Homo sapiens: one gene and its partners. The protein of the gene in region 2 interacts with the protein of the main gene of each other region in a biochemical or structural test. Each region holds a gene or a part of one and is shown on either strand. Other genes may lie near its edges. The genes, in order: ELK1, SRF, MYOG and ZIC3.

The links.
Region 1: the proteins of SRF (region 2) and ELK1 form a complex in vitro, tested with the Homo sapiens proteins (2 studies listed by BioGRID).
Region 3: the proteins of SRF (region 2) and MYOG form a complex in vitro, tested with the Homo sapiens proteins (2 studies listed by BioGRID and IntAct).
Region 4: the proteins of SRF (region 2) and ZIC3 form a complex in vitro, tested with the Homo sapiens proteins (one study listed by BioGRID).

Annotation. Positions count from the first base shown.
Region 1 is NC_000023.11:47,635,021-47,641,133, forward strand, and holds the end of ELK1 (ETS domain-containing protein Elk-1), read right to left. Parts: intron 4,319-6,113; coding exon 3,875-4,318; intron 3,163-3,874; coding exon 2,731-3,162; intron 2,095-2,730; coding exon 1,993-2,094; intron 1,908-1,992; coding exon 1,809-1,907; 3' UTR 501-1,808; downstream 1-500. UniProt on the Homo sapiens protein: Transcription factor that binds to purine-rich DNA sequences. Forms a ternary complex with SRF and the ETS and SRF motifs of the serum response element (SRE) on the promoter region of immediate early genes such as FOS and IER2.
Region 2 is NC_000006.12:43,174,133-43,181,702, reverse strand, and holds the end of SRF (serum response factor), read right to left. Parts: intron 5,998-7,570; coding exon 5,736-5,997; intron 5,156-5,735; coding exon 5,036-5,155; intron 3,410-5,035; coding exon 3,218-3,409; intron 2,898-3,217; coding exon 2,821-2,897; intron 2,609-2,820; coding exon 2,513-2,608; 3' UTR 197-2,512; downstream 1-196. UniProt on the Homo sapiens protein: SRF is a transcription factor that binds to the serum response element (SRE), a short sequence of dyad symmetry located 300 bp to the 5' of the site of transcription initiation of some genes (such as FOS).
Region 3 is NC_000001.11:203,082,707-203,090,382, reverse strand, and holds MYOG (myogenin), read left to right. Parts: upstream 1-4,370; 5' UTR 4,371-4,421; coding exon 4,422-4,892; intron 4,893-5,654; coding exon 5,655-5,736; intron 5,737-5,809; exon of another isoform or gene 5,810-6,011; intron 6,012-6,351; coding exon 6,352-6,473; 3' UTR 6,474-7,254; downstream 7,255-7,676. UniProt on the Homo sapiens protein: Acts as a transcriptional activator that promotes transcription of muscle-specific target genes and plays a role in muscle differentiation, cell cycle exit and muscle atrophy.
Region 4 is NC_000023.11:137,561,399-137,569,272, reverse strand, and holds the start of ZIC3 (zinc finger protein ZIC 3), read right to left. Parts: upstream 3,147-7,874; 5' UTR 2,582-3,146; coding exon 1,522-2,581; intron 372-1,521; coding exon 208-371; intron 1-207. UniProt on the Homo sapiens protein: Acts as a transcriptional activator. Required in the earliest stages in both axial midline development and left-right (LR) asymmetry specification. Binds to the minimal GLI-consensus sequence 5'-GGGTGGTC-3'.

The DNA of each region.
Region 1 (6,113 bases), on a different chromosome or scaffold from region 2:
AGTGAGGTTTGTCACCTACACAATCTTTGCCACAATCCCTGACAACCTCTACTGTAGTTTCATGCCCACGTAGTCTCTCACATGTGGTTTTGGTCACCCAGTCTGTCTTGCTCGCCATCAAACAGTGACAGGGCTGCAGTCCCCGTTCCCTTCTCGTAGACATTATTTTGTGCATACCATCACAGGTTCTTGTACAGTACCTTGACTATTCATCCAGGCTCAGTTATTTTCTGAAACACAGCCACAATTTCCCACATAGACACACCATCAAAAGTCTGTGGTCACAACTTCTGCACACTCTCACACACAATCACAGCTTTCCACGTCTCTGACACACACATGGTTACCGATATGCAGTCCCTACTATTGTTTCTCACACACGCCATCACACCGTTTCTCTCACAATCGACCTCTGCCTCACACCCTCCACACACAGTCATGCGTGTCACGCTCAGCTAGTCCTGACAACATCAGAGAAAAAGTGCCAGCAGCCTCCAGCATCACTTTGAAAAATATATATTTACAGGAACAATTCCCCATTCTCTGGGACTCTTTAGAAAAAAAAAAGGTCCATTTTGGGGAAGTAAAACAAACAGTGGAGACGAGTGTAGCACTGTCCCCCAAATCACCAACCCCCAGGTCCCAAGGCCTGGGCTGGGCCAGCGCTAACAGGTGAGCCCAGGAGTCTTTTGAACCCACTCTCTCTTGCCTAGAATAGAGACAGGACAGGCTTTATGTCCCCCATTCCTCCCTCCCAACTCCAGGGACATTGAAAGGGTCCTTTGTACCCGCCCGCAGGAAATTGGGGGGCTGGGAGGGAGGGAACTGAAAATTCATGTTTGGTATCAAAAATAAACACTTGGAGTGGGGGAGGCGGCAGGAAGATTCCCCCCCAAATCCCTTCCTTCCCACCCACCCCACCAAATATAGGAAGAGATGACTCCCTCTCCCCTATTGAAAAGCCCCATTTAAAAATAGATTATACTATCAAAATGGCAGCGGGGGAGAGACAGGGAGACCTGGAGTACTGGCTGGAGGGGCCCCCCAGACGGGGACCACCCCCCAAAAAAACCCTCCATTGGGAGGAAACAGGCAGGACCCCAGGGAGGTTGGCAGACAAAGGAATGGCTTCTCAGGGGGAAGAACAAAAGGGACATTCCTCCCTGGCCAAAAAGTTGGTTGAAAAGGATAAGCTGTCTGAGAGAAAGGTTGGGGAGGTGGAAATTTCTATTCCAAGGGTGTGATTCTTCCTTGGCCAAGACTCCCAACCCATTAAATGGTACAAATTCTTCCTGGACCCCTGAGTATGGCCAGGAATAATAAAACAAAACAAACTAACTCTTCTACTCACATCCAAAAACGCAGACAGGGCTCCCTCATCTCCCCAAGGGCAGGCTGAGAAATAAAGAAAGAAAGGTCGTTCTCAAGCCAGACCTCGATTGTCTTGTCTTGGGGAAAAAAGTGGGGAGGTGGGGGAGATGTCCTAACCACCCTAAAAGGTTAGGTCAGGCTCCTCCCAGTGGCCTTCAAAAAATAAATAAATAAACCGCCCCTACCATTGAAGTAGGAGACGTGTAAGGGCGGCCACTGGGGGACTGACAGAAAACAGAGAAGTTGTGGAAGCTGTGTGTTTTCTGTGGAGGAGATAATGAGAGTTACTCTTGGGAGTAATTCTTCCCAAGGATCCCCACCCCACCACAATCAGAGCATGAGTCTTTCAGTTGAACTATGTTTCTCCTTGAGATGGCTGGCTGGAGAGAGCATGGATGGAGTGACCCCAGAAGGGGTGGTGGTGGTGGTGGTAGTAGTCATGGCTTCTGGGGCCCTGGGGAGAGCACCACGGGGGTCGAGAGGCCATCCACGCTGATAGAAGGGATGTGCACCTGGGCGCTGCCACTGGATGGAAACTGGGGGCAAAAAGAGGGAGAGGTCACAGATGGGGGCCATTCTTGGGTCTCTCACCCTGTCCAAAACGGGGAAAGAGGATCCTACCTGGAAGGAGAGCTTGGCCGGGCTACGGGGCGCAATGGGACTCAGGGTGCTCCAGAAGTGAATGCTAGGAGGCAGCGAGCTGGGTGTCAGCAGCACCGGGGTCTGTGGGGAGAGGGTGGTCGGAGCTCAAGTGAGTAGAAAGTAGATGTGGGATGCTGGAAGGGACTTGGTCCCGGCCCCACCACAGATTTCCCACTCACACTCCCAGGGTCACTCCCCAAAGTGCACACACCTAGATGGTAACCATGGAGGCCATGCCTATGATCTCTCAAACTCTGCAGACACCCCCCACTCCCCACTCCCGAGAGCCCACCCTCAGTTGCTGAGACCTCATTGGTCAAGACCACCCACAAGACCCTATCCAAATGCTGCTCTCAAACCTCTCAAGTCACCATCCCAACAGCTCAGGGTCAACTTCCAACTCATGTCCCACCCATGAAACCCCATATGCACATCCCAGACCAAAAAGCCCTGCTCAGGTTCCTTAAGCCACACCCCAACCTAGAAACAGTCCCACAGAAAGACCCTCGGTCCCACCCACAAAAGTCCCCAGCCCTGCCCTTCACTAATCAAACCCCATCCCTCCAGCCAGCATCAGCCCAGTCAATCACACTCAAAGGCTCCACCCTCTTCAGGAACAACCACACTCACCCTCCTCTGATTCCTGTCAGTCACCCGCCACATGCCAATCCCATTGGTGCTGGCGCCCACACACCCCACCCCTCCGCAGGCACTCACCAATGTATGCGTAGGAAGCAGGGATGGGGTCAGCGCCGGCCCCGGAGCCTGGAGGCCGGAGCCACTTCCCGATCCTGGGGTCCGTTCGGGTCCCGGCCCACCTAGCAGGCTCGGGCTGAGTGGAAGCTCTAGGTCCCGGGGCTTCCGGCCCTTCTGCGGCTGGGAGATCTCAGGGCTGGAAGCCGCATGGCCGCCCGCCTGCCCTGCGGTGTCCATAACAACCGCGGGCAGCCGGGCTGGCACGCCCTCCTGTGGAGGGACTTCTGGCTCGGCCTTGGTGGTTTCTGGCACAAACCCTCTCTCCCCCGCAACTTCCAACTCTTCCTTGGGCCCTTCTACTTTCACTTCTGGGGGCAAAGCCCGGCCCAAACCCGGCTCCACATTAAGCTCTTCCGATTTCAGGTTTGGGGCCTCGGGCGGGGTCAGGATGACCTGGTAGAGGAGCAGGCACAAAGAGGGTGTGTAAGGATTGTTGGGACCACAGGATTCTCCTGTGGGCCACCCAGTGATTTCCCCGGGAAGGTGGCACTTGGTACTCAGGGCATGACTGCACATCAGAGCAAGTCCTCCAACAGGACATAGGACTTCGTCAAGGAAGTAGGGCTTCCTCTGGGGCAGGTCCTCCTATGGGACAGGGGACTTGGGGTGAGACAACCTGAAGCGGGTAGGAATCTGAGGGATACCATCCTCATTCATTAAAACAGTGGTTCTCAAAAATTTACCTTCCTCTGGACCAGCAATATCTGCCTCATTTGGTAACAAGTTAAAAATGCAAATTATTGGGCCCCTCCCCAGCCCCACAAATTCAGAAACTCTGGGGGTGTGCCTGGCAATCTGTGGTTTAACAAGACCTACAGGTGATTCTGATGAGCACTAGAGTGCGAGAACCAGTGCATTAAACATATTCCAGGCACCTACATGTTCGGCAGCTACTAACTGTAGCACAGTATTCTCCCCTTTCTGTCTCAGGATTTGTGTAGCTCTCTGCCCCACCCCTCCTTCTAAGAGGATGTCTTCCTTCCACCATTATCTCCTTTAACGGGACAGCTATGTCTCTTCTACCAGCCTCCCTCGTCATCCGGGGATTACACATCCCTCCTCTTTACTGCCTCCTCTTACTGAATTTCTATATTCCAGTCCTTACCTGCAGAGGCAAGCCGGCCTCTTCAGCCTCCAGACAGGCCTCCAAGGGGCTTGGACTGGTGCTCCTGCTCCCCGAGGGGGGCGCTGCTGCCCCTGCAGGAGCTGCACTGGGGAGCACCACAGCAGGCCGAGGATGAGGGGGTGGCTGCGGCTGCAGAGACTGGATGGTGAAGGTGGAATAGAGGCCCGAGCGCATGTACTCGTTCCGGCTGCTGCGTGCCAAACCGCCTGGGCCTGCCATTCCTGCACCCTTGGGTGTGCCTGGCTTTCCAGAGACAGTGTCCCCTGGGGCGGCATGTATAGCAGCAGGGGCCACATTTGGCATGGTGGAGGTAACAGACACCTCTGGCTGGGGCGGGCAGTCCTCAGTGGAGCACCCTGCGACCTCAGGGTAGGACACAAACTTGTAGACGAACTTCTGGCCGCTCACCTTGCGGATGATGTTCTAGGAAGGGAGGAGAGGAACAGAGGGCCTTAGAGGAAAGGGGCAGGCTGGAGGCAGGGTGTCAGGGGGGAGGAGGGGGGTGGAGTGGCATTTCTCTTCTCCTAGTGGCTTTCTTCCCACTTGCTCCTCTCCGGCTTTCCCGTCCCTCCTCTGTAAGTTTCTCTCTCAGCCCATTTCCTCTCCCATTGGTTTCTACCTCTTTCCTCTCCCGCCAGATTCCCCTTATCTATATCCCTCCCCAGTTCCTCCCCTTTCTCTCTTCTCTCCACAATAATTTTTTCTTTAAGCCCCTTCCCATCCACCCCTTTCCAAGCCTCCCTTTGTCACTCTCCAGGTCCGTCTATCTGATTTTCCCACTCCCTCCACACTGTAGCTCCTCTTCACAATGGGGCCCATGAAGGGCAGTAGGTGTGGGAGCAGGTCTTCTTCCTGGCTCCAAGAACCAGAGGTTCACAGGGCCAGGCCTTGTGGGTGACTGTCAGGACACAGTTTTGGAGACTAGCAAATGCAATAAGACAAGAAAATGAAGTAACTGATATAAATGTTGGAAGAAAGTAAATTAATGTAGATGGATGGGGTGATGAATTATTAATACAGAGGATTATTTGAAGCTAATGATACAGAAGTGGAACAGGGCAAGGTCACTGCAGAGGAGAGGGTGAGGAGGCCTCATTATTAATACCACTGTGGAGGTTGAAGCTAAAATGGTAAGAAAATGAAGTAACTAACAGCAATTAGACAAGAATATTAAAAATACTGGTATAAATATTGGGAGGGGGCCTATATCAAGGCTGGCTTTGCTGGGTCACAGAGCATGTTTGGGGTTTTTCAGGTCTGGTGGGTCTCAGAGATGACCTAGTGTTCCCAGAGGGCAGAGTGAGATAGCCTCATTACTAATATTGTTCTGGAGGGTTGAGCTCAAGGAATAAAATATGAAAATGGAATAAATGCCATAAACTATGAAGGGTGTGCAGCATATGACCAGGGCAGTTCTGGGAGTGTGGAGGCACTAGGGCATTCTGTGGAAGTCTTAGTGCTGGTCAGATATGTCACAGGGTGGGCCTGTGTTTCTCGGAAGAGGAATAAAAAGGGATATTCATGAATATTGTTTGGGAAATTTCAGTAGAAGGATTAAGAAAATGAAATAACTGGTATAAATATTGGGGGGAGGAGAAACCCAGCAGTGGCCTGGGGGTCTGAGAGGGCAGGATGGGGGAAATTTTAAATTTTAGCTGTAGGAATAAGATAATGAAAACAATTGATATAAATATTGGGGTAGACCAGTGCTCCTCTGGGAATTTAAGAAGACAGTGTGTGGAAGTTGGCATTAAACATGTTGTTTCAGAGGTTTTAGCTTAAGGAATAAGAGAAGAAAATAATTAGTTAAAAATGTTGGGAGTCCCAGAGGACGAAGTAAGCAAAAGTTGGTATAATACTGTCAGGGAGGTTTTGATTCTAGGAATATGAAATATTCTGGAATAAGAGAAGACTATGAAATAACTAGGGAAGCCCAGCACTGGTCCAGGGGTTTCAGAGGACAGAATGAGGACCAGCCATTATTAACCGTGTTTTCAAGATGTTGGCTATAGGAATACGGCAGGAAAATGAAACGTTGTGCATGGCAGGGCAGCATCACTTTGGGGATCTCAGAGTGGGAGTAGAAAGAGTCAGTATTAATAATGCAGTGGTGGTTTTCGCCAAAGCAGTAAGACAAGAAAGTAGGTGAGATAGTGTTTAGGGGCCCAATACTGGTCTTAGGGTACCAATGGATGGGTTAAAAACTGATAAATTTTAA
Region 2 (7,570 bases):
GGGAGAAGGTCCTCGGCCCCGCAAAACTTTCCTTAAATTAAATCGTATAGAATTAAACAGCCCAAAGCACACCTTAGCATTACCGTTCTCATCAAGCAGCCCGGATCGCTACTCAGAGCAGCAATTTTAGGAGTTTGCCTCGCGTTCATACCCCCATCCCTCCCTAAGTAGAAAAACAGAACCAAAGACCCCACAGTCTGTGCACAAAAATGATACATTTATTGAAAGAGTATTTTTTTTTAATACAAAAGAAAGCTCTGTACATAGGACTGTGACCATGTCCACTATTCCTGGGTCAGCATCCCAGGGGAAGTAGAAACCACTGACATACACACTCACATTCAAGCACACACACTCACTCAGGCGCACACACCCACACACACATACCCCAGAGCCACCGAGGAAGGGAAACACCAAGGGTCGCTGCACATAAAAATATCACCTCAACTCATCCCTGACACACGCATGTCCTCCCAAGGCCACGCTCACACAACACACATTATAAGCACTTTGCCTGATTCACTCACTGGGTCTGTCTTTTGTGGGAAGGAGAGGAAGAATTCATCAAAGGTCTCCTCCCCATGGGTGGGGGAGTGGGGAGTGAGTGAGTGATGGTGGAGTGAAACAAGAGCAGAGAAAAGGGGCTGGGCAGTTACAGACCTGAGTCCCAAGCTCCCCTGCTCTCTGGCCCCTGATTTGCCATGCCCCAGCCTTGAAAGCCACCCATAAGCCCCAGCTATCTCCAGGAGAAAGCCCAGAAAGGTGACTTCCATCTTGGCACCCCAAACTGGGGCAAGACAGCAATGAGGGTTAGAGGTTAGGGGGTTCTCAAACATGTCGGCAAATCATCCCCTTGATAACTAGGCTGTGCATAAAATCTTCCCCCATCCCTTCACCTAATCACAGAAGCCAGCTTGTTCCTACTGAAGGCAGTCTTAGGGGTTAAGAAAATTTCACCCCACTGCTGCCCTGTTTCTGAAAAAGCTCCCCTTCTGGATATAGGTGGTGAAGGTAGGCTCTGACACAGGGTAAAAGACCCTCCCCCCTATGCTGGCCCACCCTCAAGGTCTACCCCAAAGGGGGAGGAGGGGGGTGGGGCATGGCCCCTGTACAAATTACATAAATACTGAGGTTACACTTAGAAAAATAAAGTCATTTTCTTCAAGGCTTTTTGTCTTAATTTAAAAAAGTTACAGTAGCTGCTCACTCCCTGGGAGAACTGCCCATTTCTGGCTCCCCTTTGGCTGCACTCAGCCCAAGAAGCTGCTCCCACTTCTTCTGACCCCCATTCCTGCCTCTCACCCCCTCCCAGACCCCACCCTGCTCACTGCAACTTGGGCCCCAGGCAGCTGCATGCCTGGGACAGCGCAAGGCTGCAATGCCCATGCGTGTGGCACAAATGAAGTCAGTTGCCTCTGCCTGACGCCCTCCCACCCCAACCCCGACATTTGGTCTCCCTCTTCCCTCTCCCTAGCAACAGCCCTAAAGGGCAAAAAGAGGCCCAGAGCTGTGGGTCACCCTCCCCACCCCGTTGGGGAATGGCCTGAGGGCCCCTCCCCCGGCTTTCTCCTGGAAACAACCCAGGACTGGGCAAACCCAGAATCTCCCCCACACACTGGTGGACCCCGAGCTCATGGGGTGGCTCTGTCCCCAGGGGCCCAGCCAGTTCTGGGGAGCCTGAGGGCTCCCCAGGGAAGGGGAGTTTGGGCAGGGAGGGGGACGAGAAAAACGCCATAAAAAAAAGTTAAATATTTTAAAAATATATATTTATAGATTTGTTTTCACTTCGTCTCCTCAAATAAAAAGTTCAAAATCAACTTTAAGTAAAGCAGCTGGGAGGAGAGGGGGGAAGACAAGGGGGAGAAGGGAACGCTGGTGGTTCCCTCCAACCCAGGAGCCCCTGGAGGTCCAAGGGGAGCGGCAAGGCAGGGCAGGCGGCCCCAGGAACCTGCCCAGTGCACAGGCCCAGCTACTCAGGAGCTGAAGGGGGAGAGGACAGCAGTGTGAGGAAGAAGCCCCCATCTCCCCAGCTGGCCCCCTGAGGGGCAGAGCCAGGGCTCTTTTGACCCAGCCTGTGACAGACACAGGGCTGACCTGGGGTCAGCAAGGAGGCTGGCAAGAGGGCCCCAACTGCTTCCTCAGAGGAGGACACGGTGCCCAGCCCCACAGAAGGCCTGTGTGTGGGGAGGTGGGGCACGGTCCCATTGGGTAAGCTAATACTCATGGCAAACATCGAGCCAAGCTGGCGAGGGGGTCCCAGGAAGGAGGACAGCCCCTCCAGCAACAGAAATGGGAGGTGGGGCGGGAAGAAGGGGAGGCTGAGGGAGGACGGGTGGAGGCAGGCAGGCCCATTTCTTTGGCTGGAGTGAGAGGGCTCAGTCCTGTGGCTGCCCGTTCCTCCTCCCCGCCTCCCTCCTGCGGCCCGTCAACGTGTGTGTAAAGAAAACGTGAAAAGGCAACAATAAATAAGTGGTGCCATCCCTTGGGCCATCTGTCCAGGGCGGCGGGCGGATCATTCACTCTTGGTGCTGTGGGCGGTGTCCAGGTTCACCACCTGTAGCTCGGTGAGGTTGCTGCTGCTCCCGGCCTGCTGCCCTATCACAGCCATCTGGAGGGAAGGGGATGTATGAGGAGGGGCAGGGACTGGCCAGCCAGTTCAGGCTCCCCTGGCTTCCCTGCCTGCCAACCACAGGCCTGAGCAGAAAAGCAGATGGGCTTCCAGGCTAGGGATTTTGGCTTTGATGAACTGGTAACAGGATCCCCTAAGGTCAAGACAAAGAAGTGGCTATCTGGGATGGGGTGAAAGATATCCCTACCTACCTGGTGGAGCTGAACTGCTGAAACAGGGATCTGCACTGTCCCAGATGATGCTGTCAGGAACACCTGGGGGACGCCACCTACATTGGAAAACCACAGGAGATACTCAAATTGTTTGTTGAAACTTCCAGATATTGGAGGAGTGGTGTCAAATGCACAAGTGACTGGGGCAGTCTCAGATGTAAGAGCCCAAGGGAAAGGGTGCCAGTGTGTCTGAGGGTGCATGCGGGTGTGAGTGTCCAAGTGGGGTGTCCAAATGTGTGTGTGAGCATCCAAGTCTGTGTTGTATTTGGGTAGAAATATTTGTAGGCATCAGTGCATATGTGTGTGTATGTGTGTGTGTGTGTGTGTATAAAGAAGGAAACGGTCCTCCTTTCCTTAGCCCTGCTCCTCTACTCACCTGGCTCCTGGACCTGGCTGTGTGACACCTGCATGGTGGATGGTGCCTGGGAGAAGGCATTCAGCACGGTGAGGCTGCCATCACCCAGGCCCGAGGTGGGGGCATACATCACCGCATGCGGGCTAGGGTACATCATGTGGCCACCCACAGTTGTGGGCACGGATGACGTCATGATGGTGGCGGGCAGCGTCACTGGCAAACACAGACATGTGTCAGCTCGGCACTGGTCCCCACTGATAACTCCCATTCCGTCCCTAGGAATTCCAGGCCCCCAGAGCCCTCTTGCCATTTCCCAGGTCAGAAGCTAGACACGACTATTCCTCAGCTCCATCATCAACTAAGAAAAGCCTATTTTTTCTTGAACACAACAGCATCAATCTTTAATTGTATCCTATCACATTGTACTATTTATTCAATTGTCTATCTACTGAATTCTCTAAGTCCTAAATCTTGGGAAAAACAAAGATTATGACTGACCTACTCTCAGAAAACTCAGATACTCCCCTTTTAGGAGCTCTAACATCTTATTTTTTATTTGTTCTCATTCTCCCTCCTTTTTTTTTTTTTTTTTGAGATGGAGTCTCACTCTGTCACCCAGGCTGGGGTGCAGTGGCGCGATCTTGGCTCACTGCAAGCTCCGCCTCCTGGGCTCATGCCATTCTCCTGCCTCAGCCTCCCGAGTAGCTGGGACTACAGATGCCTGCCATCAAGCCCGGCTAATTTTTTGAATTTTTAGTAGAGATGGAGTTTCACCGTGTTAGCCAGGATGATCTCAATCTCCTGACCTCGTGATCTGCCCCCCTCGGCCTCCCAAAGCGCTGGGATTACAGACGTGAGCCACCGCACCCGGCCTCTCTCTCCTTCTTAATGCACAGCTAACAAATTCATCTTTCAAACAAGCACTTCTCAAATGTTAACGTGCATTATATGGGAATCTTGTTAAAACACAGACTCTGGGCCGGGTGCGGTGGCTCAGGCCTGTAATCCCAGCACTTTGAGAGGCCGAGGTGGGCGGATCACGAGGTCAGGAGATCGAGACCATCCTGGCTAACAAGGTGAAACCCCGTCTCTACTAAAAATACAAAAAAATTAGCCAGGTGTGGTGGCGGGCACCTGTAGTCCCAGCTACTCGGGAGGCTGAGGCAGGAGAATAGCGTGAACCCGGGAGGCAGAGCTTGCAGTGAGCCGAGATGGTGCCACTGCACTCCAGCCTGGGCGACAGAGAGCGAGACTCCGTCTCAAAAAAAAAAAAAAAAACAGACTCCGATTCACTAGGTTTGGGGTGAGACTCAAGATTCTGTATTTCCAACAAGCTCCCAGGTAATGCTGGTGTTCCCAGTCCATAGGCCACACTTTGAGTAAAAAGGTTATAAATAATAAGAACTTAAAATTAACCTTACTTTGAGAGTATCTCATCATTTCTGAAATGTCTAGAGATACCTGAGGGTAACTGTGGCTACTCAAAACCTGTAAGACCCTCGCACAAAGAGAAAATTGCTCTCTAAGTCCTTCCTGATAATTAAGCAAATGTGTCTTTGAGCAAGTAACTTCTTATTTCTAGGCCTCAGGCTCCTCATCTGAATGAGGAGGTAGGTCAATGGTCCCCAATTTTCTTCTGGAATCCGCAGCCCACTGCAGGGCGGGATTCAAAACCCAGTCATCCTCACCTGACTTCCCCATAATTATTAGGCCCAAAGCCTCAATCTCCACTTTAAGAAATCCCCTGACTTTAGTTACAGGAGGGTTACTGTTGGGCACCTACTGCTAGGCCTCGTGGGGGAAGGCAGGGAGGGAGGGTGACAGGGCTGCGAGCTATACCTGTCCCGCTGGAGGAGGTCTGCGTGAGGTCTGTGCTGCTGTCACGGGAGGGAGACGCTTGCTGTGGGGCCTGGTGCACTTGAATGGCCTGCACTGGGACCTGCTGGGCCACTGCCCCACCTGCAAGACACAGAGTCTTATTTGTGCTCTGTCCCACCCAATTGCCACCTCCACCAAGTACCCATGGACACCCCAGTCCCAGGGTCTGGCACACTGGTCTCCAACTCCCATCACTATCTTTCCTGGAAGCCAAAGAGGCCCTTCAGGCCCAAGTATCCACTCTGGGGGCTTCCACGCTCTACTCTTGCCCATCCCTCCTCCTCCTGCCCTGGGCCTTGTCTCTCTTTTCTTCAGTTGACCCAAGAGCTGGCAATAACCCATCAAAGACATGATCTGCCTTCCAGTCAAGGCAGGAAGTGGTGAAACATCTACTGCCCTGTGGCAATGAGGGCACGGGGCTGGGGTAGCTAGACAGGGCCAGAATATATGGTTGAAACTTACTGACAAGGACAGCAGGGGTCTCAGTGGGCAGAGGTATGCCTGCCAACGGGATATAAGAGGCTTCGCTCAGGCTCTGGCCCCTATTCACCTTCCTTCTGAGCAGGGAAAGAGGTTCTCTTGGTGCCAGCCCTAAACACACTCTTAGCATGCTTGATTTGCCCCAGGAAGGACGAATCTCTCCCTGCCCCTCGTGACTCACCAGGCATGAGGGTGAAGCTGGTAGGCAGCTGCATAAGGCCCCCAGAGGAGACAGGGCCGCTGCCTGTACTCTTCAGCACAGTCCCATTGGCACTGCTGACAGCACTGGGGCTGACACTAGCAGACACTGGTGCCAGGTAGTTGGTGATGGGAAAGGAGGGGCCGCTGCTGACTTGCATGGTGGTAGAGGTGCTAGGTGCTGTTTGGATGGTGGAGGTTGTACCCGGCAGGTTGGTGACTGTGAACGCCGGCTTCAGTGTGTCCTATACCCAGAGTAAAGATGAAGCAATGAGCCCCTACCAGATCCTGCCTTTGCAGAAGCTTTGTGTGGACTGAGAACCCAGACTGAAACCAGTGAGCTTGGGTTCAAATCCCAACGCCACCATTTACCTGATGCCTGACTCTTAGGTAAGTTATTGATCTACTGAGCTACAGTTTTCTATCGGTAAAAGGAGGATAATACCTACCCCCTAGGTTGCTGTAAGGATTAAGTAGGTTAGCATATGTAAATCACTTAGAAAACACTACCTGGCACATAAAAAAACCAAAATAAATATTTGCTGCTCTTATGATAATTATTATCATTGTCATTATTATAATCCCCTGAGTTCTCTGCTCCAGCGGACTGTGGTAATCCCATTGGCTGGGGAGTCAGGACACCAAGGTCTGTTCCTAGCTCTGGTAATGACCATCTAAGTGACCCTGAAATAACCAGTCCCCTTTTCTGAACCTCGGTTTTCCTCTTCTATAAGCATGAGGGGGCTGGGCTACTACGTTTTCTTTCAAAGAGTTCTTCCAGCTCTAATTTGTCAGGCTTCTGAGATAGGAACTGAGTTTCTCAGGGAACTTAAGAGTTTGAGAGAGATCTTGAGAATCTGGCAATGACACACTATATGTCAAACACCCAAGATGTAAACTACCAAAAGAATGTACTCATCCAACAAAATTTCCTGGGAATAAATGAGCCCTACTGTTATAAAAGTTTAAAAATTATTACAGATGATATGCCACTAAGAGAGGAGGTAGCCTACAGCACTGACTCTCCCCTAAGGAAGACTTCGTTCTTAGAAGGGGAAGAAGGAAACTGAGAACCAAGCCACCAAGCCCAGACCCGAAATGAGTCAACCAGAGGCTCAAAGGCTGCGGGGTGGGTCAGCACGAGACGTTTGCAAAGCAGCTGGGCCCAAGACCCTTGATTGGCAGAGGCGTTGCTAAGGCAAACAGTGCCGCTTCCTCCCATTGGCCAGTCAGTTAAGTGCCACCCGGAAGGTGGAGCTCCCCAGACAGCAAGGGAGGAAGCCCCACCCCCTCTCCTTACCGGGAAAAGGAAGGGGGAGGAGTAACAGCGCAGGCATCCCTAGCAGCAGGCAAATGCGCTCCCTAACTGCCCAGGCCCCCAACACCCTGAAAGGGCAGCGGCTGGCTTGTAAGGTAGTCCCCGGCCCAGTCAACCAGCCCGCCTGCCAAGAGTGCTGGATTCCCAGGACCCCGGGACCGGAGTGCTCCCTTTCTACTCCCTGGCGACCCAGCCCGGAGGGCCGGGCTAAACTACACCCCCGCCCCTAGCGGGGAGACAGCTGGCGGGAGGAATGCAAAGGCCCTGCCAGGCAGGCGGGCTGCGGGCGGGAGGCCGGCGTGGAGCCCAAGCCGGCCTTATATGGGCACGGAGGCCGCCCGCTTATCTAGGGGGGCGGTCTTCTATCAGGAAAGTGAGGATGGACACCTGTCCCCTAGGACGAGGGTCGTTAATCCGGCTCCACTCCACATCGGTGGGCACCTATCCACCTGTCCTGGGCCAGAAAGGGAGAGGGACCCCACTCCCTTCCCTCCTCTCAC
Region 3 (7,676 bases), on a different chromosome or scaffold from region 2:
TAATACCCAGAGACCCAGCCTAGGAAAATATATGGTGAGACCTGTTTGGAGCAGCCAGAGGCCCCCACCCTTCCAGACCCTTCTCCTTCTTGCTCCTCTATTCCCAAGCACATGAGAATCCAGAATGGAAAAATTGCTTTGATTTTAGCCAAGCACCATGGCAGCCCAGGTCAGCCCACCTGCAAAATCAGCAGGGACTAGAAGATGCTGAAGGCCAGAGGGCTGTGACTGGGTGTGCAGCAGAAGGGGTAGTAAGGAGCAGGGAGCAGGTGAAGGGGATTTCTGAGCATTTTGAAATCCAGCCGCTACCATGCAAATGACATCAGCCCAGCGTGCAAATAGACAGAATCAAGTTGAAACAGTCAGGGTTGGGGAGCCAACAATGTGGCCCTGGAGCCCCAGTAGGGGATAAGGGCTTCCTCTGGAGGGCGCAGGACTGCTGGAGGAGGAGGCTACAGTCAGGGCAGGGGGCCCTGTGTGCCCAAGCCAGCAGGGATGGGGATTAGGGCCGGACGCCCTGCTGTCAGGTTGGAGCTGATGGATTGCCGCTGGTGGCGGAGCACAAAGGCTGTTCTGTGCTTGGCACCAATGTGTTCCCATCCATCAGAGGGCAGCTTGTGGGGGTGGAGGGGTGTACAAGGGGAGGAGGACCAAGCCTCTAGATGAGGCGTCTCCACAGCTCGGCTCTGAGAGAAGAACAAGATGGGTACAGGGCCAATCCCCCCCATCAGGGTATGGACAGGTCAAAGACACCTGGGTCACTCTATCAGCTCAGACCAAGAGGGTCTGTGCCCCACATCGGGCTTTGACGTGGTCCCCAAACCACTGTACTCAGACATACACAAACACACACAGAGACAGGGATTCACAGAAACCAGGCACACAAGGTCACCCTAACCTCCCGGCTCTGCCCTCATGTTTGGTCAGAGGCAAACATCATCCAGACACAAGGCCAAATGCATGCCCAACAGAGCTTCTGCAGGCAAGCGCCGAGTCTAGGCACTGCTCTTGCCCCAGGTCAGGTCCCAGCCAGGGAACTGACACAGAGTGGGTTCTCAGTAAATATGTGTTGAGCAGATGAAGGAGTGAATTAATAAATTCCTTCTCTGGATTACGTCAGCACTTTCTCTAGCCTGCTGTTTCTACCTTGGTTAGATGACTTTGTGTACTCATTCTCCTTACTCATCAGTGAACATGCTGAAGGCAGAGAGGGCATGTCTTAGTAACCCCAGCACCTGGCACAAGGTGCTGAATGCACAGTACTTGATAGAAAAAAAAATGAATGAATGAATAAACACATTCGGGGTGGAGCCAGGTTTTCCCTCCTCCATTCCTGCTGCTGTGGTCCCCTGCAGGGCACACAGAAGTAGAAGAGAAGACAAAGCAAGAAAAGGGAATAACATTTACCAGGTGTATCCATGTGCCAAGTACCCTATCATTTAATACAGCCATTCCCCTATTGCTTGCATACTCGCCATCCTTTGCTAGCCTGAAACATGCACCCTCTCCCAGTCGAATCCATCCTCCTGCCTCTGAAGAGGTTGTTCAGACCTTCATCATCTCATTCCTGGATGACCATCACACTGTTCTGTGCGGTCTCCTTGCCTCAGCTCTCAAGTCCTTCCCTGCCCAGCTGGGCCTCCTCCCCTCTGTGCAAGTTTGTCTCAAATCACCCCCTTACCTGAACCCCAAGCTCCATACAAACAGCCTACCCAACGTCCCCTTCCCCTGCTCCCCTCTCCTCATCTGAATCCTACCAGTTCTCCAAGAGCTGGCCCAGCATGCTCCCCAAGCCTTCTGCAGAGCACCAGTCTTCAGCAGTTTTGGCTTCCCAAAAATTCCCAAAACGCTTTTGAAGAAACTACTGGTTTGCAATTGATTAAAGCCCCCATGTTTGCTGTAGAATCAACATAGCTCTCCCTTGTCTTGTAATCCAGCTTTCACATGTCAACCCATGCTCACCAACTAGACAGTAAGGTCTGGAAACCACCATAGAGCAAGCCAGCTCTGCCTCCATTTTAGAGGAAGAAGACACATTATTTAGAGGTAAGTCACACTGGATCCTGGAATAACAAAAGATGCAAATATGGGGGTTCCTATAGTGGCTTCAACATGACTTCTTTTCTCAGGGCTCATAGGACTGGAGGGTAAACTGAGGCTTTTTTTTTCTTTTTTGTTTGGCAGGGGATGTGTTAGAAATAGAGACTCTTCTTCAGCCCAGCTGGTCAGGGGAAAGCAAAGTTTAGAACCCACACAGTACCTATGCTGCTACTTTTTTTTTTTTTTTTTTTTTTTTTTTTTGAGGCAGAGTCTCGCTGTGTCACCCAGACTGGAGTACAGTGGTGCGAACTCGGCTCACTGCAACCTCCTCCTCCTGAGTTCAAGTAATTCCCTGCCTCAGCCTCCCAAGTAGCTGGGATTACAGTGCCCACCACCATGCCTGGCTAATTTTTGTATTTTTAGTAGAGACAGGGTTTCACCATCTTGGCCAGGCTGGTCTTGAACTCCTGACCTCGTGATCCACCCGCCTTGGCCTCCCAAAGTGCTAGGACTACAGGCATGAGCCACCACGCCCGGCCTATGCTGCTACTTTCTATCATGCTGGTAAGGCCAAGAACAGAATTAAGACCTCACTGCTCTCCCTCAACATGCTTAGGGTTCTTTTGTTGTCCAGCTATGTTCCCTCCTTCCCTCCATTTCCTGTCCCAAAAGGACATCAGAATTCTCCTGGCTCCCTGCTGTGAATAATGAGAGGAAGGAACACTGGTTCTTCACATGCCTCGCAGATCTCATGTTCCCTGTGAAGTCTCCCATGAGTCCCCAGCAGGGTTCCCCTTCCTCTTATTGTCCTTGCCACTGGCTTGAACTTGTCAGTTTGATCTGTCGTAGGATAAGGAGCAGGACATTAGTCTATGGGGAGGAAAAAACTGGGAACAAAGGATAAAAGATAGAGGGAGCAGATTGCAGCCCAAAGCTACACGTCAATGGAACGGGCTGTCTCCTGACGTGAGCAGAAGCTGAACAGTAGCCGCCTCGGAGGAGATTTGGGCATCAGGGGCTAGGTAGAAAGAGGTGATCACCGTTGTCTATCAGATGGTAAGTTCGAGGGCAGGGATCCTGTCTGGGGTGTCCCTATAATCCCCAGCCCTAAGACTGAGCCTTGTTCACTGCTAGTGTCTAAGGTCTGCCCACTGCATTGGAAGGAATTTGTCCTCTCAGACCCTGAGGCACCTACTGAGAGGTGACCATGGCCTGAGAGGCCTGAAGATTAAATAGTCCCTGCTCTACCTGACATTTGAGACCTGCATGATACGTGTAAAATTGATGGCTCAGACAGTAAGAGGCAGAACAACCAAGCCCGGTGGCCAAGGAGAGAGGAGATTTAAACTGAGTTTGAAGGGCTCTGTTTTTTCTACTTTTTCACCCCCGTCCACATTAATGAGCCAGGAAAATTCTGGTGTTGGAAAAAGAGTTGAGGAGGTAACATAGAAGGACAGATCAATGGTCCGGAGTGAGACAGGGAGGAGACAGGGAGCTTAGGACATCTTGACCTTGCCGCTCTGGGGAAGGTGGCAACGTGTAGGCTGTAAATTCTAATCTCTGCTCTGACCACGGCTGCTGTATTAAAGAGGAAATTTCTCTTTACCCCTGCCAAGAAAACCAAAACCCAAATAATTTCTCTTGCCTCAATTTACCCCCCCAGATGAGACCTAAGAGAACATACAGCTCAAAGCTGCTTGGGAACCCCAAAAGTGGAATCTGTTAGCTGCTCTGAGTCTTGATCCTTCTTATCCCTGGATACTGAGTGCCCATGAATGCCCAGAATCTGAAGCAGTCCCATTCTTTCCGGAGGGAAGTCTTTAAAAGAGTCTCATCGACTGATGTAGTGTGGTTAAGGTGCTGTCAGGAAGCAAGGAGATGGATAAGTTGGCTCTTAAGGCCCCTTCCAGCCTAAGCCTACCCTTCCTTGTTCCCTCCTCCCCCTATACCCACCAGCTTCTTCGGGACTGCAAGGAGACAGCAGGCAGGCCGCCCAGCTAGGAGTAATTGAAAGGAGCAGATGAGAGGGGAATGTGTCCTCCCCCAACGCCCCTGCCCCACAGGGGCTGCTGAGAAATGAAAACTAATCAAATTACACCCGACGGCCTCCCGACCCGTGCACAGGAGCCCGCCTGGGCCAGGGGCAGGCTGGCAGGGTGGGGTGGGGGCCATGCGGGAGAAAGAAGGGGAATCACATCTAATCCACTGTAAACGCCTTGATGTGCAGCAACAGCTTAGAGGGGGCTCAGGTTTCTGTGGCGTTGGCTATATTTATCTCTGGTTCCATGCCAGCGGGGAGGGTTTAAATGGCACCCAGCAGTTGGCGTGAGGGGCTGCTGGAGCTTGGGGGCTGGTGGCAGGAACAAGCCTTTTCCGACCCCATGGAGCTGTATGAGACATCCCCCTACTTCTACCAGGAACCCCGCTTCTATGATGGGGAAAACTACCTGCCTGTCCACCTCCAGGGCTTCGAACCACCAGGCTACGAGCGGACGGAGCTCACCCTGAGCCCCGAGGCCCCAGGGCCCCTTGAGGACAAGGGGCTGGGGACCCCCGAGCACTGTCCAGGCCAGTGCCTGCCGTGGGCGTGTAAGGTGTGTAAGAGGAAGTCGGTGTCCGTGGACCGGCGGCGGGCGGCCACACTGAGGGAGAAGCGCAGGCTCAAGAAGGTGAATGAGGCCTTCGAGGCCCTGAAGAGAAGCACCCTGCTCAACCCCAACCAGCGGCTGCCCAAGGTGGAGATCCTGCGCAGTGCCATCCAGTACATCGAGCGCCTCCAGGCCCTGCTCAGCTCCCTCAACCAGGAGGAGCGTGACCTCCGCTACCGGGGCGGGGGCGGGCCCCAGCCAGGGGTAAGTGGCCATCCCATCCCCCTGCCCCAAGGGGACGGGGCCAGAGGGAGGCACCTGGACAGCCTCAAGACCCCAAGAGGGGCTCAGAGGGTTGGTGCAGGTGCCAGACAGGGTCGAGGGGCTGCAGGAGCCCTTCCCTGGTCAGAGCTGGGCTATCCAGCTGACCTCCTGTGTCCTGTGTTCTTTCCAGACAAGATAAAGGCAGTGGGGAGGAAGTGCAGAAGGGGTTGGGGTGGGGAACATAGGACTGAAGAAAGATCAGGAGCAAGGCCACAGTCAGCCCAGGTGAGGGTGAGGATTAATCCCAGCGCCTGAGTCAGAGCCTAAAAGGCCAGGCCAAGTTCACCAGAGAAGACTGCTTTGCCCCCATCCTGGGTGTGGCTGAGCAGAGAGAAAACCCACTCAGTCTCATTGGAACTCCAGCAGGCCTGCACAGAGCGACCTTCACTGGGCCACAAAATCTGTCTCCATCACCCTTATCGCCAGAGTCAGGAGAACCAGGGACCCCTTTAAGCTGGTGTCCTGTGAGAGCAGAACCACCACCCAGGATGGAAGCCAGGAAGGCCTGGAAGCAGGGCCTCTGGGGTGTGAGAGGAGCTAGTTACAAAGATTCTGGGGTTGGGGATGGCCTGGGCTGGAAGGCCACAGCCTGTGGCCCACCCTCCAACCCCACCACAGGTACTTCTGCCCACTGGGACTAGGCAGAGAGAGACATCAAAGAATGGCTGTGCCCCGACCTTGGGCCTTCGCCCTGTCTTGCAGGTGCCCAGCGAATGCAGCTCTCACAGCGCCTCCTGCAGTCCAGAGTGGGGCAGTGCACTGGAGTTCAGCGCCAACCCAGGGGGTAAGTAAGGCCTGACTGGTAACCTTGGCTCCAATCCCTCAGTCCCTCCCTGGGCCAGGTTCTCCCCTCTTACCTTATTCCTTGCTCCGGTCCTCTTCCCTTGGGTCTCTCTAGGGACCTGCTGACTCCAAGGCCCAAAGGGTGGGCTGGGAGGTTCTGTGTGCCCCTGCAGTCTTGACCAGCAAAGGAGTGATAGTAGCTCCTGCAGCTCCCCAGCTGATGCCTGGTGGTTGACCTTCTCCACAGAGAGGACAATGTCCCTGCCCCAGGGGTCCCTGTGAAGTGCTGAGTCAGTGCTGCAAAACTGGGCCGAGCAAAGGGCAGGTCCAGTCTCTGGGGAGCTCCATCCTGCTCCAACTTGAGTGGCTGCTTCCAAACCCTACCTACTAGGGGAGTTCAGAAAAGAGGCGCATACACACACACACACACACACACACACACACACACACACTCACAGAGCATGGGGAAAGGCAGGGACTAGGGAGTAGAACTCCGGAGCTTTGTCATTCATCTGTCCTGGAAAACCTCTGTCACCCCAAGGGTCCCATCCTCTATTCTGGGCCTCAAGAACCCCCACTGCTCACCCAGGTACCACCTTCCCACCTCCCCTTACAGATCATCTGCTCACGGCTGACCCTACAGATGCCCACAACCTGCACTCCCTCACCTCCATCGTGGACAGCATCACAGTGGAAGATGTGTCTGTGGCCTTCCCAGATGAAACCATGCCCAACTGAGATTGTCTTCCAAGCCGGGCATCCTTGCGAGCCCCCCAAGCTGGCCACAGATGCCACTACTTCTGTAGCAGGGGCCTCCTAAGCCAGGCTGCCCTGATGCTAGGAAGCCAGCTCTGGGGTGCCATAGGCCAGACTATCCCCTTCCTCATCCATGTAAGGTTAACCCACCCCCCAGCAAGGGACTGGACGCCCTCATTCAGCTGCCTCCTTAGAGGAGAGGGCATCCCCTTTCCAGGGAGGTAAAGCAGGGGACCAGAGCGCCCCCTCGTGTATGCCCCAGCTCAGGGGGCAAACTCAGGAGCTTCCTTTTTATCATAACGCGGCCTCTAATTCCACCCCCCAAGTGAAACGGTTTGAGAGACGCAGTGCCCTGACCTGGACAAGCTGTGCACGTCTCCTGTTCTGGTCTCTTCCCGATGCCAGTGGCTGGGCTGGGCCTGCCCTGAATTGAGAGAGAAGAAGGGGAGAGGAACAGCCCTCTGTTCCCAAGTCCCTGGGGGGCCAAACTTTTGCAGTGAATATTGGGAACCTTCCAGTGGTTTTATGTTTTGTTTTGTTTCGTGTGTTGTTTGTAAAGCTGCCATCCGACCAAGGTCTCCTGTGCTGAAGTTGCCGGGGACAGGCAGGGAAAAGGGGTTGGGGCCTCTTGGGGGTGATTTCTTTTGTTAACAAAGCATTGTGTGGTTTTGCCATTGTTTTGTATTTTTTTTTTTTTTTTTTTTTTTTGCTAACTTATTTGGATTTCCTTTTTTAAAAAATGAATAAAGACTGGTTGCCAGAAGAGTGTCGGTGATGATGCAGAGGGAGGGAAATGACTGACAGCCCTGCCCCTTCCCACTGAGCAGTCCAGACACACCCTAGTGGGTGGGGCTCCACAGCGCTAAGGGCCTCATCTTGCTGGTGGTCACTAGGCACTGGGGACCCCTGCTCTTTTCACCATGATAAAGGAAATCGAGCATGTCTGGACCTCAGTCTAGGTGGAGACCAGATTCCACAGACATCCTTGTGGGACACGGAGGACAACTGGCTATGACTATACTTCAAAGCCACTGCTCACAGGCTGCTGTGCTCTGTGTTATGTCCCAACAGGTCCGCTGGTTTCAGTTAACTGAGCACCTCGTAAGCCCAGTGCTCAGCCCACAGCCAAGGTGCAGAGCTAGAAGTTGTGGTTTCCCTTCCCTAGTCCCCACCTCTGCCCTGGTG
Region 4 (7,874 bases), on a different chromosome or scaffold from region 2:
CCTCCCCCTCCCAACTTTGCTCACTCCCGCCCACCCCCTCACCCCCACCCCCGCCCGGTCCCCAAAATGGGTTCAAGGTGTCACTGCTGGAGCAAATCGGATTTAACGTGGAAGACAGAGGGTTGGCAGCGCGGGCGCTTCCGTTCCGCGGCCCGGCGTCGGGCCGAGTGTTTACAAACCGCCGACCGCTAATAAAGAGGTAATTACCTTCATGTGTTTGCGCAGGGAGCTCGGGTGCGTGTAGGACTTGTCGCACACTTTGCAGATATAGGGCTTGTCCGAGGTATGCACATGCATGTGCTTCTTACGGTCGCTGCTGTTGGCAAAGCGTCTGTCACAGCCTTCAAATTCACATTTGAAAGGTTTCTCACCTGCAAAAGGCAAAAACCCAAGGGGGGTAAAATACGGTCAGCGCCGGAGTTTCTCAGAGGCAAGCAGCAGGAGACTGAGCTCCCGGCGGTCTTCCCGGAAAGGGAGCGCGGACTGGGGGCTGCTGCTGCATCTATTTTCCCTGGAGAGAAATGAAGAGCGTAGGTTGAGCCCGCTGGGTTTGGGAGTGGTGGTCGGGGTGGGGGTGGGGGTGGGGCGGGGCCGGCCCAAAACCTGACCATGTCTTTGTTCTTGCAAGGAGGGAAAGCCCCTGGCTCCTCCGAAGTTTCCCCTAAGTTGTGTTTCCACCCTACCCGACCCAGGGCTCCCAATGCGCGGCCACGTTCCGCCACCACCTCAGCAATGTAACCGAGCCCGGCGGGACAATGGGCCCCGGACAGGACAATCCCGTTCAGCCTCTTTGTACCTTTTTATTTGCCTCTTTCAAATGCAGCGGTTTGGCTAAGCCCGATATTAAAAAGCCTGGGTAGTCGTAGTTAATGTTTGAGGAAAAAAATATAGATAGATAGATAGATAGATAGATAGATAGATAGATAGATAGATCGATCGATCCAGGGGGCTCCAGACAGTTTTACAAGATGTTCTGAACAAACCACGAAACTGCTTTAGCTTTCCTCCCGGAGGACTGAATTGAACCTGGAACTCCAAATAAAAATAGTTTGACAAAAGTATCAGTCATTTAATTAGGAGATGTGCCAATCAAGTGTAAAAAAAAGCGGAAGTAACCGAAAGTTAGTTTTCATTAGCATTTGTATGGTTGCCTTCCACGAATGTGTGCCGAGAGCTAAGTCGCTTGTAAGCAATATGCTCTCAACACATTCGGAGTCCCTTCACGGTAACCCAGAAAGGGAGACAAAAAGAGGCGGCGCCAGTTTGTTCCTGGGCGCGAGAAGGTCCCAATTAGTTCCTGAGACCGCAGAGCAGTCTGCCCGGGAAGTTAGAACTCGGCAAAGGCGCCACGGGACGGGGAGGGCTAGGGGTGGATGGTCACTGACAGCGCTTCTTTTTCGAGCGGCCGTTGCGGGGCGTCGCCCCTTTCCCTGGCCGCCACCTCTCTCCCTCGCGCTCTAAGTCCGCTGCGTGACGGGGTATCGCCAGTGGAACCCACGCCCGCCTGCTTTTTTCCCTTACCTGTGTGGGTCCTCTTGTGGATCTTGAGGTTCTCAGAACGGGCAAAGATCTTCCCGCAGCCCGGGAAGGGGCATGGGAAGGGCTTCTCGCCCGTGTGCACTCGGATGTGGTTGACCAGTTTGTACTTCGCCTTGAAAGACTTGCCCTCCCGGGGGCACTCCTCCCAGTAGCAGACGTGGTTGTTCTGCTCCGGGCCCCCCACATGCTCCATGGTGACATGTGTCACCAGCTCATGCATGGTGCTGAAGGTCCGGTCGCAGCTCTTCTTGGGCCGGCTCAGCTGAGCCTCGTCGATCCACTTGCACGACAGCTCCTGCTTGATAGGCTGCCGCATATAACGGAAGAAGGCGCCGGGCCCGTGGTGGGCCGCCACGTTCACTCCCATGTTCATGTTCATGGGGCTGTAGTTAGGAAACTGAGCGCCGGCCGCGTAGGGGTCCGTGCGCGGGCTGGCCACTGGGCGGTATGGGTCAGCACGGCCGAACAGCTCCCCACGCAGCCCCAGGTGGACCTGGTTGTTGTCCACGTGCCCTGTGGGCGACGGGTGCCCAGCGCCCTGCTCATGCAGCCCGGGAAACAGCAAGTAGCTAGGGGGCTCGGGGATGCCAGCTGGAGCATGCAGGCTGCTCGCCGAGCCGGCGAAGAGCCCGTGCTGCCCGCCACCCGAGGCCGCCTCACTGAGCCCGGAGCTGCGCTGGCGGAACAGAAACTCGCGCGTTGAGTTGAAGGCGGCAGAGGCAGCGCCACCGTAGCTGGGCACCTGGCTGGTGTGGTGATGATGGTGATGGTGGTGGTGATGGTGGCCCAGGGCGTTGGCGTAGCCCGAACCCTGCGGCGTGAAAGCCGAGCTCTGGCCTGAAGATAGATCGTGCGCCGCGGCAGGGCTCAGCTTGAAGGCAGCGGCGGCGGCGGCGGCGGCGGCGGCGTGGGTTGAGTCCCCGAAGGGATTCAGCCCCATGCCTGCCGGCTCACGGTTGGGCATCTCGTGGTGGCGCGGCGCGCCGAAGCTGCCCACTCCCAGCCCAGGGAACTGCGGGCCTCCGTCCAGGAGCATCGTCATGGGTGGGACGTTCTGGGCACAGGCGATCCGGCCGAAGTGAGAGAGGGTACCGGCGAAGGAGGAGATCTCCGAAGTGCCGTAGTCGGAAAGGGGTGGCGGCGGTTGGACACTGCGGGGAGACCCCCAAGGCGCTACCAGGGGCTGCAACTTTCCGTCACTGCAAGAGTCTCCTGCAGAGGGATAGGAGGGAGGAGGGGAAGAAAGAGCAGGGAGGGGGTGTTGGCGGGGGGAGGAGGAGGGAGGAGAAGGGAGGAGAAAAGACTCGGACTAGATCTGGTTTAACAAACTAACAGGCGCGCACAAAGAAAAATAAGCAAAATAGTAAGTGGAGGGCGGAGTTTGCCAATCCTGTCCCGGGCACCCCTCCTCTCCCCGAGTGCACAGAACCGCGGGGCCAGGAGGCTCCCTGGGTACCGGCCTCCGGGCTGGGCTGCGCCAAGTGGCGGAGCCGGCTAGCGGCCGGGCAGGCGGGCAGCGGGCAGTAGGCAGGCTCGTTACTCGCCGCTTGCCGCTCGCCGCGCGAGTCCCAGCCTCTTCGCCTCCAGAGTAATGTCCTTGGACTGATAAAGTCAATCACTCACTCCTCGCACATAAACCGAGCGGGAGGCCGCGAGGCGCGCGCCAATGGGGAGCCAGCTGGCCCGCGGTCACCTGACCTCCGGCCGGACTGCCCATTGGCCGCCGCGAGGCTGATTGGCAGCGCGGAGCGGAGAACATGGCAGCCGCGGCCGAGCGACCCCCGCTGATTGGGCAGCCGCCGGGTGCCTGGCAGGTGAGGCGGCGGCTGCCGGGCGGCCGCGAGTGGGCTCCACCGGGCTTGAGTGGCTGCGGGGAACTGGGGCCAGGCTCCAGCCGGCAAACGGCGGGACGCCGCCGGGACTCTCGCGGGCTTTCCCCCACCCCTCGCGGGCTCTTTGCCCCGCGAGGATCGGTCCCACTGCTGCGCCGATGGAGGAGACGCGGCGCTCAACGTCCAGTCCTGCTTGGGCCCCCGCTGCCTCACCACCTTGAGAACATGTCCCCTCTGTAGCTGCAGGGCGCAGATCCTGGGGAGAGCGCAGCAGTTTCGCGCTCCCGGTCCAGCCGCTGCGTCCACCTCCAATCACTGCGAGTTCTGATGGCCTCGAGGCCGGGACCCAGGCCGGGATAGTTCGCCGTTTGTGCCCCCAACCTGTCGGCAGCTGTCCGAGACCCAAAGGAGAAGAAACGATTACAATTAGAGCTGATCTCCGTTACTTCCGTCTGCGCCAAGCGTTGACCCTTTAGTTTGTGAGCAGCGGCCGTACTCGCCGCTGCCCACTTCCCGAATTACACACCGGGCACGACACAGCAAACATATACAACGCAGTAAACCCAAGCACACAGTAGGAAACAAGCACACAACACAGTAAACACAAGCGCACCACAGGAAACAAACACGACATATGAAATACGCACACAACACAACAAAGTAAGCACATACAACACAGTAACATAAACTACGCACAACACAGCAAACACAGAAACACAACTAAACACAACAGAGCAAATACACATAACAGCGAGCATACCCACAAATACAAAACATGCAAAGAACACTTTTAGCCAGTGTACGCAAAACATGCACACAACACACTAAACACATAATAAACACACTAGACACACACAGTATCAGGGTGGTTTCCAAATCACTAGGCTAATCAGCTTTGAATTCTCAACATTTTCAAATGCAAAAGTCGTGTTGGGGGTTGCTGATGCTGAATGGGGACTGTGACATGGAATTTTCTTTCCTCTGAACAGCCAAGGCTTTACTCTCTTCTACTCCTACCCGGAGAAGGTAAAGCATGTAGTGACCTCAGGGACTGCTTACCCCTTAAGGATTTACTTCCAGGGGTGTGTGTGAAAGTCCTCTCGCCTTCTGTCTGTTGCAAGGTCTTTCTGACATAATGACCAGGTTCAGACAAGGCTATAAATTCACTCATTTTTGTGTCCTGCAAGGCATTTGCAAAGAATGCAGAAGAGAGTGGAAAGAAAAGGCAGAGAGAAAGATGGCTGTGATTGTCACATCCCTAGCTGGGCCAAGCCCCAAAGTCTGCGCCTTGAGGCAGCCTCACAGCCTGGCCGCCATCTCTCTGTAGGAAATAGAACATCTGATCAAGTTCAGAGGCGCCAGGAGAGACCGCCTTAAGCAGCGCTTTATAACTGCAGCCTTTCACTTCCTGCTCCCCAGTCTGCCTGGCCCAGCCAACACTTCACCTTCTTTCTTAGCCAGTTTGCTGGGAGAACACCCTACCGGTAGCACATCTTACCGTATTCACCCCCTCCCATCAAACTCGCCCCAATTCTCTCTCCACATCCAGAGCTCTCTCCCCAGGTTGGAAGGTGAGTTCACTGCTGACTTAAATTATTGCGTCTGCCGAACATAGGCTCTCCAAGAATGGTTTCAGTGCCTCTCAGCAGAGGGTTTCTTTGGGGGGGTAGGGGGGCGCTGGTGTGTTCAGAGAACAAATATGCTTAAATCATGCAAATGAATCCCCTGGAGTCAGGTTTACAAAAAAGGAGGATTGCCTTTCTTCCCCCCCCCCCCCCCGCCCCACCTTTCTTTTCACTTTCTCCTTTATTTCCTCTCTTCCCTCTACCTCTCTTCACCTCCCACCAACCCCAACCGCCCTTGGCTAAGTAGTTGGTTTGAAAAAGTTTGGATTTCCTCACTGAGCTGGTCCCGCGGACAGCGGTTCTCGAGACTAGGGGACCGGGAAGGGGCGGCTGTCGAGCTCTGGCCGGGCCAGCGCTGATGCGAGAGTTTCCGGGGAGTCCCGCCAGGTACCCCGAGAATCGAGGGCCTTGCGCGATTGCAACTGGGTGAAGGGCTCAGAAGGGGGGCAGCCGAGGGAGCTCATCATGCCCCTATTTGGGAAGGGGTCTTGAGCTCAAGGCAGGGGGAAGTTGCCGCCGCTGACCTACCCGGTGCCCAGTGTCCGTTTTGATACGGCCACATTCCGATAATTAATTGCCTCCAGCACGTGCTCTGTAGTCCCTGGAACAAAAAGGCATAATTCAATTAGATCATCAACCGAGAAGTGGGGAGGTGGGGGCCGGGGGGGTGGATGCTTGTTAAGGGGGCAGACCTGAGGCGATTCAGCCAGGCCAAAATCCCGGGCAATGGAGCCCTTCACGGGACAGCCGGGCCCATCCTGAGAGTGCGGTTCTGAGGGGGTGTCGTTGTTCTGTGGGACGCAGGGGTCCCAGATGCGCGCAAAAGGACGAGGCTGGGGGCTTTGTGAACAGCAGGTCAGAGGCAGGCCATTTCTAAGTCGGTTTCAGTTGGTTTGAGTGGGAGTTTCCTTATTTGGGGAGGGGGACCCCTGACCCTTAAAAGAGGGTAGAAAGCAAAATCCCTCCAGATAAAGCTAGTTACTGCACATGAAAACAAAGTCCCCACCCCCAACAAAGCAAATCACTGCTGTTGGGGGGGAAAAATCGCGAAGTTTTTCTTATGACTTAGAGCTTCTCTCCTCCCCAAACTTGATTTTCAAGAGGAGACTCTGGGAACAACTTCGGGGAACAGGGCGCTTTGGGGAGCTGAGTCTGAGAACAGAGTGGTGGCAGAAGAGGGAAAGCTAAGAGGAGAAAAGTTTTTCCTACACACAGGCAGAGGTGAGGGGATGGAGACAACTCTCGTGTTTTCGTTTTTCAGGTGGAGACAGGAGTCACAGCTCTAGTCAGGGAGGACAACTCGAACCCAGGGGTCGTGGTTCTATAGCTGAGGCTCCCTCAGCAGCTTTGGCTTACTAGGGTTTACATGTGTAGTAGGCAACGTAAATTAACCAATAAATCTCTTTTATGTGTCCCCAAGTTGTATGTGGTCGGGTCTAAATATCCACATGTTTGTATGGATAGGAAATATAATGGGATCCTTTCCCTCACACTGAGTTCAAACGGTAAATAGGAAAAAGATTTATTTTTATGCCCAAATCTAAAGCAGTAAATAAAATCAGAAAAACTGATCACTTCTAAACCAGCAAAGCTTTTGAGCCCGATTTTTAGAATCCATCTTGAAGAAGCAGTAGGGAAACAGAACGTCCTGAGGGGCAGTAGGGTAGGACCGGGTTCTTCCTACAACCCAGAGCCCAACTCCACAGCACTTTTCTCTTCCGTCGAACCTCCGAAAAACAGAACATACACAGCACATTGTGTTATCATGCAGCATTTCTTTCTAAACACATTTTATGTGGTGGACATGAAATTATCCTGATTCGGTGACCTAGTAATTTTCTTTAAGTTCAAGGGAAACGCTGCGGTCTTTTCTTCTGTTTTGTATTTAGAAAAGACTTGCAATCTAACACTCGCAACATTTTAAAGGCCCTTTAAACCCAGCAAGCGGATTTCCGTTCTGCCAAGGCTTCCTGATTTATTTCAATAAATGAATCTTTGAATCCAGGAAGGGAATTATTCCAGGACGCTGAATTTGGTGCCCCTGTCTCTCCCTAGTGGAGCACAAAGTGTTTCTCATTGCAACATGTCCTTGAAACTCACCATTATTCGCCTTTTTTCCTGGTAAATGACACTTTCTTTACATAAATCCCCACCCTCTCTTCAGAGTCCCAGATCTTTTTAAAAGAAAAACTGCAAGTGGCAATAAAAAATGAAGGGGGAAGAAAGCTGGGAAAAGAATGCATTTTTAACTTCTCTTTATTTTTATGCTAAGATAAAGCACTTAATTGGCATCAGGGGCCAAGCTGAACTATCGATCTCCAGGACATGCTGACACACTTGCCAACCAAGTGTGTCTGCAGGTTGGTGAGCGTAAAATCACACAGCTCCAGATTTTATTGGCCACATCAGAATTTTCACTATGGTCCTATCATTTGACACATATTTTATAAGCCCTAAATACCTTTAAAATTCAATCGAGAATAAACAGATATTGTTAATTAACCCCCCCCCTTTTTTTTTTGCCTTTGTCCTCTGAAATACAAGGCATATTGTTACCCAATGTAATGAAATGCAAACCAGACAGGAATGAGACATTTTCATTGTACTTGTCAATCAGGGCTGTGCAGACAGATATATATACTTGAACTTCAGAGACATAGGCTGAAGTAAATAGGGCTGAACTTGAAGGAGGCAGGCAGGGACTTGAACTAGAACTATCAGAATCCAGTTTGGAATTATAAAGGGAGTCCCTGAAATATAGAAAATGCAGTGAACCACCCCACCCAAGTGGTAGGCAGTGGTCCTCAGGCAAATCTGAGTGAAAGGCTTATGACGAGCTGTGGCCTGCTAGGTTCTGCTGCCATGGAATACCTTTACC